2 separate regions of the Homo sapiens genome follow, and region 2 is linked to region 1. Evidence: fine-mapped expression QTL. A gene starts in region 1. The other region holds a variant in brackets. All regions are shown on one strand. Distances are between the middles of the regions. Region 1 holds the start of LINC02067 (long intergenic non-protein coding RNA 2067). Region 2 overlaps LOC107986150 (a long non-coding RNA gene).

Evidence for each region. PIP is the estimated chance that this variant, and not a neighbour inherited with it, causes the effect.
Region 2: its variant is the best candidate, but not a certain one, in a credible set for the expression of LINC02067 in testis (GTEx, PIP 0.76).

The regions. Positions count from the first base shown.
Region 1 is chr3:161,424,261-161,428,260 of GRCh38, reverse strand. It overlaps LINC02067 (long intergenic non-protein coding RNA 2067), which reads right to left and starts at 1,834. Exons shown (of 4, transcript NR_102265.2): 1 at 604-1,834.
Region 2 is chr3:161,379,778-161,384,313 of GRCh38, reverse strand. It overlaps LOC107986150 (a long non-coding RNA gene), which reads right to left. Exons shown (of 3, transcript XR_007096152.1): 1 at 1-4,536. Among named protein-coding and RNA genes, the nearest start is that of SPTSSB, 11 kb to the right of the region's middle. The variant A/C (reference allele first, on the strand shown) is at 1,883.

The DNA.
Region 1 (4,000 bases):
AATTCAAATCCTGCATACTCAAAAGAAAGGTTGGAGAAACATCTCGAAATTACAGTTGATGAATTTATAGTTTAGCAATTCTTAATTTGACAGTGCCGATCAAACTTGGGCCCAAATCTTGAGCTCATTACTTAACACCTGTGCAGCCCTGGGATTTTTTTTTTTTTTTTTTTTTTTTTTTTTTTTTTTCCCCTTATTTCTCTGAGTCTCAGTGTCTTCACCTGTAACATGGAGAGAATTGTATCAACCTTGTGCATTATCTGTAAGAAAGAAAGATAATCCAGTTAAAGCACCAAGCACCAGGGCTGGCACCTGTAGTCAGTGCTCAATCAATCACACCTGTTAGGGTTCTTGACGATTTGGGAACCGGAGTTTCTCGATTTTGCTATTCACACACAGAATGCTCTTTTACCATTAAAAAAGATTTTAAAGTTGTAAAAGAAGGAGATAATTTGGCCACCCTGTCATGGTCTGCCTTCTCTTTTCCAATTTTATTCTGCTTCTTGATTCTAATTGGACTAGAATATGTAGTTGTTTGCTAGGGCAGCTGCAACAAACTACCACAAATGAAGCAGCTTCACCAACAGAAACTTATTGTCTCACCGTTTTGGATCCCAGAAGCCAGAGATCCAGTGTTAGCAGGGGTCCTTTCTTCTGATTGCTGCAAGGAAGAATCTGTGTCATTACCCTCTCCTAGCATGTGGTAGTTTGCTGCCAATCTTCAGCATTCCTTGTCTGGTAGAACCATCACTCTGGTCTCTGCCTTCATCTTCACATGGAGTTCTCCCTGTGTATGTGGCTGTGTAAATATTTTCCCTTTCTACAAGGACATGCTCATATTGGATTATAGCCCACCTTACTCCAGTGTGACCTCATCTTTACTTACATCTGTAATGACCTTATTTCCAAATCAGGTCACATTCTAAAGTACTGGGGATTAGGACTTTAACATATGAGAATACATTTCAATGCATAACAAAATGCTATAAGACTCTCATTATTTCCATGAACTTTCTGGACTGTAAACTCTAAAGGAAACAAGCAGGACCTAATTACAACTCTGGTTGTCAGCCTCTTTACCTTGCCAGCAGTCTGCACTGGAGCATGAATACGTAGCATTAAGTGTATAGGGAAAAGAATCTGATCTTCCTACCGAACAGCAAATCTTGTTCTAGAATTTTATCTGATTGTTTTTAAAGTAGAAACACCACAATTAATGTCTTGCACTGTTTACTTTCATCTATTGCAAATAACAGTTCAACTAAAAACCACTTCACTGACAAGACGGGAACTGAGAAACCCTATCAAAGGAAATGAAAAACATGGCACAGCTTGATCAAAAACCTAAGGATGAGCTTCAGCTGAATACATGAATAGCTGATGTTGCTCAAAACATGGGAGCCAGCTCTGAGGCTTGGAACAATTTTTATTACGAAAAAATTTTCTTTGGGTAGATTTTTTTTTATTTGGTTTCCTTTTTCTGTTGTTTGAAGAATGATCCATATGCAGATTTTTTTTTTTTTAAGGCAGAAGGCTGGATGCACAAAAGGTTTGCAGTGAAAAGAAAGTACACCTCTCTCTGTGCCTCCCAGTAATCCAATTCCACTCCCTGGAGGCGATGCCTACCTACCGCCAATTCCTTTAGTCTCTGCATTTAAAAACACAGATAGATTCACACAAAAGACAGCAAGTGGACTACCCTGCGCCTGGCTTTTTTCTCTTTACCTTGTATCTTGAAGGTTCTGCCAGATCATTAGCTGTTTCACTTACCATAACAGCTGCACTCACTGTGTTCCAGAGTCATGAGTCTTCTCGGGTAGGAATTTTTTGTTTGTTTTGTTTGTTTTGTTTTTTGTTTTTTGTTTTTGTTTTGAGACACAGTCTCACCCAGCCACCCAGGCTGGAGTGCAGTAGCATGGTCTTGGCTCACTGCAACCTCCGCCTCCTGGCTTCAAGCAATTCTCATTCCTCGCCTCCCAAATAGATGGGATTACAGGCGCCTGCCACCAAGCTGGGCTAATTTTTGTATTTTTAGTAGAGACAGGGTCTCACCATGTTGGCCAGGCTGGTCTCAAACTCTTGACCTCAAGTGATCCATTGTGTAGGAATTTTATGTATAAAGGAGCAGTGTTCTCACAGTCCTATAATGTGCCACCTCCCTGCCCCAGCTCCATACTGCTTCACCACTGCCAAGGAACTGGAAGGCAGGGCTTATGCCTACAATACAATGTCAAATGGAATGACAGACAGACTTGTACTGGAGAAGTTCTGTTTGGTCACCTGTAGTTTAAAAAGAAAAAAAAAAAAAGCCAGTTCAGGAATCATTGCTCCTCTACCAAGCTTCCCTCCCTTCCCTTCCCCTCCCCTCCCCTCCCCTCCCCTCTCCTCCTCTCCCCTTCCCTCCCCTCACCTCCTCTTCTTCTTTTTTTCTTTTTTTTTTTCTTTTTGAGATGGAGTTTTCCTGTTGTTGCCCAGGCTGGAGTGCAGTGGCATGATCTGGGCTCACTGCAGCCTCTGCCTCCAGAGTTCAAGCAATTCTCCTGCCTCAGCCTCCCTAGTAGCTGGGATTACAGGTGTCCACCACCATGCCCAGCTAATTTTTTGTATTTTTAGTAGTGACGAGGGTTTCACCATGTTGGCCAGGCTGGTCTCGAACTCCTGACCTCAGGTGATCCACCGACTCGGCATCCCAAAGTGCTGAGATTACAGGCATGAGCCACCACATCCGGCCCAAGCCTTTCTTACTTCCTTTGCTCCTTTCACTCCTAAAAGGTGAAGGAAGTGTAAACTTTTTTCTAAAAATAACAAAAAAAATTGTAAGAGTTTATTTGTATATTTAAAGTGGCCTAGTTACCTTTGCTAATGCTCTAATTTTTTAAATTATTTCATTTTAATTTATTCTATTTTATTTCACTCTGTCTTGCTCTAGAAAAGACTCACAAAGGCTCTAGTGTCTTGTAAAAGTCCAGAATAGCACAGATTTTTCTATTTGCTTGGAAATTTACAGATTTTTTAAACTGCTTTTAAATATTAAGAAGGTCTTTCTGCAGAGAGTAACAATGTGGAGTATTACGTAATTATTGTTCCAGTCCTCTAAAATGCTTTTTCAAATTGTACCTATTCAGTTCAGTTGATTAATTAAAAGTTAACAATCTCCTGTGTCAAATCTTCTAATAGATAGAAAATTAATCATTCCTTTTTATATTATATTTATCATGCTTTTTATTACAAAAGTAATATATTCATTGTAAATTTATCTAAAAATAAAGACAAGCACATTGCATTTAGTTACCCAAACTGGCATTGGGATTTTTCATGGATACTCCCAAATATTTTCTCATGCACGTCATATGTTTATGTTTCAATAAACTCAGGATCATATCACATGTACTAAATGGCAAACTGCTTTTTCTACCTCATCATGTATAAAGAACATTTCGGCATCATTAATTCTACAGCACGATTGTTAATAACTACATTGACTCTATCATAGAACTGGAGTGTGATTTATTTCAAATGTCCCACTGTTGAATATTTAGGTGGTTTATAGTGATTAAGCATTCAAAACAATATTGGAATACACATACGCATAACTTTCTTGCACATTTTGCCAAATTATTCTCCCAAATAATTTAAACATTTGTTCTTAACATTTGAGAGAATGAATCCCTTTGAGAATCTGATGGATTTTGCATCTCTTCTCAGGAAAGGGCAAATATGTTCAAATTTTTATGCATCTTCGGAGCCTTCCGACCAAAACAACCCCAGATTGAGAACGCAGTAGCATTTTATGTCCCTACAAACCATATGAACGCCCTTTTGCTCACACTATCCCTTTGTTTTCAAACTTTCTGCTGATTTGAGAGATGAAACAGTACATCAGTCTTTTCTTACTTTGTATTTTTGTATTGCTAATGAAATTTGAACACTTTTTCCAGAAGTTGATTGATCATGTATTTTTTGTACATTGCTTATTCAAGCCTTCTATCTAATATAATTC
Region 2 (4,536 bases), 44 kb after region 1:
GGGTTACTATCAGATCCTGCTATGGTTCCAAATTCACAATTTTGTTAATTGATTCTCAAAATTAAGTCCTTTATTGCTAAATCCCATAAGAACAACTCTGGCTCTGTTCTCCTGAAACTTTAAATAGTCTTAGTCCTCAGAAGGACTTAAATTCATGTTGTCATTCTTACAGCCTACAAAGACCTCTCGAAGATACTTCTCAGCATGCCCTCCACTAAATTGTGTTGCATCCACACAGCCACCGCAGAAAAATAGCTTTCACCTTGAAAATTAAAAGCCACACCTTGGAATTGATCACATATTATTTGCTAATGGTTTGAGGAAAATGCCTACGTAACTTATTCTTCAAAATTGCATCTCAATTTTCTTAACAACAACAGTGATCTAATTCCTTTCAAGAAGCTATGTGCCTACTTGAAGCTAAGATTAAAAATTAAACCCTTCCAATTTTTATCTAATTTTCTTCTGAATTAAATTTGGATACTTACTATGGAAATGCAGCTTCATGACAAAAACCTTGCTTTCTACTATCTGCCATCTCTCAGAAACTTTTAAAAAGACATGTGAAATCACTCTATTTCCTCCAAATAAACTGAATTATCAATGTTAATGGGAGACAGGGATAAGGTAAAATAAAGCTCAAGTAATTAAACTATTTTATTGTAAATATTCATATTACCTCCGAGCTAATTTTTACTAGAGGTGCTGGCAAATTCAAAACAAAATAAAAATTAGTTTCAGATTACTTCTTACTCACTAGCTAGGTGACTTCCTAACCAATCAACTTACTCATTCTCACATCAAATTCAGAATTCAAGCTTGTGTCTCAGCAAAATTACAAATTTAATGGACCTCTAGAATGCTTTAAATATAGTGGAACCACAAATGTTACATCCACATATGCCAAGAGTTTATTTTAAGGCCTTCATCACTTAATGATGAAGTCATTGGTTTGACTCTCAGACAACTGATAGGATAATAAATATGTAGTTAACATTAGTTCAATTCACACCTCATCTGAAAGATCTTTTGTTTCACTCCCATTTTAGAAGTCCTCTGCCCCTCTACCTATATTTCCCACAGGTTTTAACCTGGCTCCCGTAAGGAACACTTCTGGGAGTATTCAGTTATTTCTTTTTTAACCATTTATAATTGAAAATTTTATGGGTGTTGAATCCAGGCAGCCATCATCATTCACCCAGTTCAGATCTAAAAGGTTTCAGTCAACCACAGCAGCTCCTGTGGGCACAATGTCTGAAACCCTTGATAATAAGCATCTCTCTTCTTGCACCTCCTGTTTTCATCATCAAGAAATTCTCAATAGGCCTCATTTCCCCCTGTGAATGAGAGTTGCATAATCAATAACATCTAGCCAGTATAGCACTCTCCTCTTGGTCCATTTGGTTGCCTCACTTTGACAATGCCATTCTGATTTATAAGTGTTCTCAGTAAATGCTAGTTATCCATACCCTGCACTCCTTTCAATCATGGTAATTTAACACCAGTTTCATCCCCTTAGGAGTTTCTCTATTAAGCACCCTGCCAGATGTTTAACTGGATGCTCAATCTAAATCCTGCAGCACAGACCACATCCCAGGAAATGTTAACTCATTAAAGAGATTCCTACCTTTGAAGCACAAGTGGAAAAGGGAGTTTAGAAAATTTGCTACATCTTTAGCTTCATCTTTGGGAGTCTGACCTTAACTTTCACTAAGTCAAGATTCTGGAATATTCATGTCAATGCCATTGATATGTGGCATGGAGATAATTCTTAAGTCTCCTTTTCAAACACTTAGCTAATTTAGAAGTTCAAGAAAAAAGTACATTTCCTAACTGAAAGCCTTTTTTAGCCCTAAAAAAGGTGGATGATATGACAATATAC[A/C]TTTGTATATGATCCAATAAAAATCACTTAGTTCCACCCCCCTTTTTTCCCTTTATCTTTCTCATGTCTTTCTTGACTTAAAGGCTTTTAGAATTAATGTATCACTGGGGGAAATGTTGAGTTGTGCTCTAATTTTATATTTGACATTGACTGCATATCTTTGGCGATGTCAGTTAACCATCTTGGCTTTAATATATTATCCATAATTTACCATTCTTATTAAATGGCATTAATATATGTTGTTTTCTTAATGGAATGCTGTAATAAAAAGGAGATGATACTGTCAACTTTCTATGGACATGAAAGATATTTTTTGAACTCACCTCGATAAGTACAAATATTGCCAGCCACAATTCAAGACACTAACCCAGACACTAAGCTTGGTAGGAGGGATGCAGGGTTGACCAAGACATCGTTCCTGGACATCACTAAGCTTCATTTACATTTGGAGTTTTAAAAAACTTTTAACAAAAGAAATTCAAGACTTGTACACTGAAAACTACAAAATACTATTGAAAAAGATAATAAAGAAGATCTAAGTAAATGGAAAGCCCTCCCATGTTCATGGATCAGAACACCTAATATTGTTAAGGTGGCATAATCCTCAAATTAATCTATAAATTAAATCTGTATTACAGGATAGTAATACCTATCAAAATTCCTGCTACCTTTTTCACAGAAATTGACAAGATGATCTTAAAATTTATAAGAAAATGCAAAAAATAAATAATAGCCAAAACAAGATTTAAAAAGAAGAACAAAATGGAGGATCAACACTTCCAAATTTCAAAACTTATTAGAATAAAGCTATAGTAATCAAAACAGCATGGTACTGGAATAAGGCTAGATAGATAGATCAATGGAATAGAATTGAGTACCCAGAAATAATTCCCTACATTTATGGTCAATTGATTTTGGTAAGGGTACTAAGACAATTCAATGGAGAAAGAACACTGTTTTCAACAAACAGTGTTGGAACAATTTGATATCCACATGAAAAAGAATGAATTTGGATACCTACCTGACACCATGCACAAGACAACTGAAAATGGATCACACATCTAAATGTAAGAGCTAAAACTCTAAAATTCCTAGAAGGAAACTAGAGGAAAATCTCTATAATTTGGGATTAGGTAATAGTGTCTTACATAAACACCAAATTCATAAGAGACCAAAGGAAAAAAAGAGATAAGTTAGACTTCACCAAAATTAACAACTTGTGTGTTTCAAAGGACACCATCAAGAAAGTGAAAAGACAGACCATAAGATGGGAGAAACTCTTTGCAAATCATATATCTGACAGGGGACTTGTACCCAGAATATATTTAAAAAACTCTTACAACTGTACATAAAAAGACAAATATCCCAGTTTAAAAATGGGTAAATAATTTGAATAGACATTTCTCCAAAGATGTACAAATGACCTATAAACACATGGAAAGATGCTAAATATAATTATTAATTAGAAAAGCATAAATGAAAACCACAATGAGATACCACTTCACACCCATAAGAATGGCTAAAATCACAAACAATAACAAGCATTGGTCAGGATGTGAAGAAGTTGGAACCTCATACATTATGCGTAGGAATGTAAAATGGTGCAAACACCTTGAAAAATAACTTGGCAGTACCTCAAAGTTAAACACAGAGTTATCATATGACCCAGCCATTCCACTATCATATCTCATATACCTAAGAGAAATGAAAACATATGTCCACACAAAATGTTCTTAGCCACATTACTCATAATCACCCCAAAGGGAAAACAACCCAAATGTCCATCAACTGACGAAATGGATAAACAAAATATAGGACAGCCACACAATAGAATACGATTCAGCAAATAAAAAGGAATGAAGTACTAATACATATTACAACATGAATGACCAGAGTAGGGAATGGATCCACTCACCTCCCAACTCCAAGCATGAAGGTAGAAACTTTTCCATTTCTTATTCTTCATTCTGTAAATATTTTTTGAGCACCCACTATGTGCCAGTTGCCCTCCTCAACAGTGAGCAGAAAATATTATGCTAAGTAAAATAAAACAGTCACAAAAGGCGACATATTGTATGATTCCATTTATATAATATGTCCAGAATAGACAAATATGTAGAGACAGCAAGTAGATTAATGGCTGCCTAGGATTGGCAGTGGCGGTGGAAGAACGAGAAGTGACTGCTAACAAGTATGGGGCTTCTTTTTCAGGTCATGAAAATGTTGTAGACTTAGATAGTGATGATGGTTGCACAACCCTGTGAATGTACTTAAAACCACTGAGATGCTTCTCTAACCTCCCCGAATCCTCCCACCAAGTCATCAAATAAATTTAAAGTACAGATCACTAGATGAGATGAAGACTGGGACAGAACTATCCATGAAAGACCATGGTTTTACTTCCAGTTGCCACTCTGTTTCCATGGGCTTCTTTTCCTGTTGTTTAATCTTGACATCTGAATTGTCTTGTTGCCTTATCTTCTTACTTCTTACTTTCATTCTGGATTTGCTCTTTTCATCCCTAATAGCAACCCTGACCTGAAAGTTTAATTTGACAGAAATTAAAATAATACCTTCACAACGAATGCCAAATTCTCCACAGCAAAATGTCACTACGCTAGAGTTGCTATGAATTTTCATAATACATAAGGGAG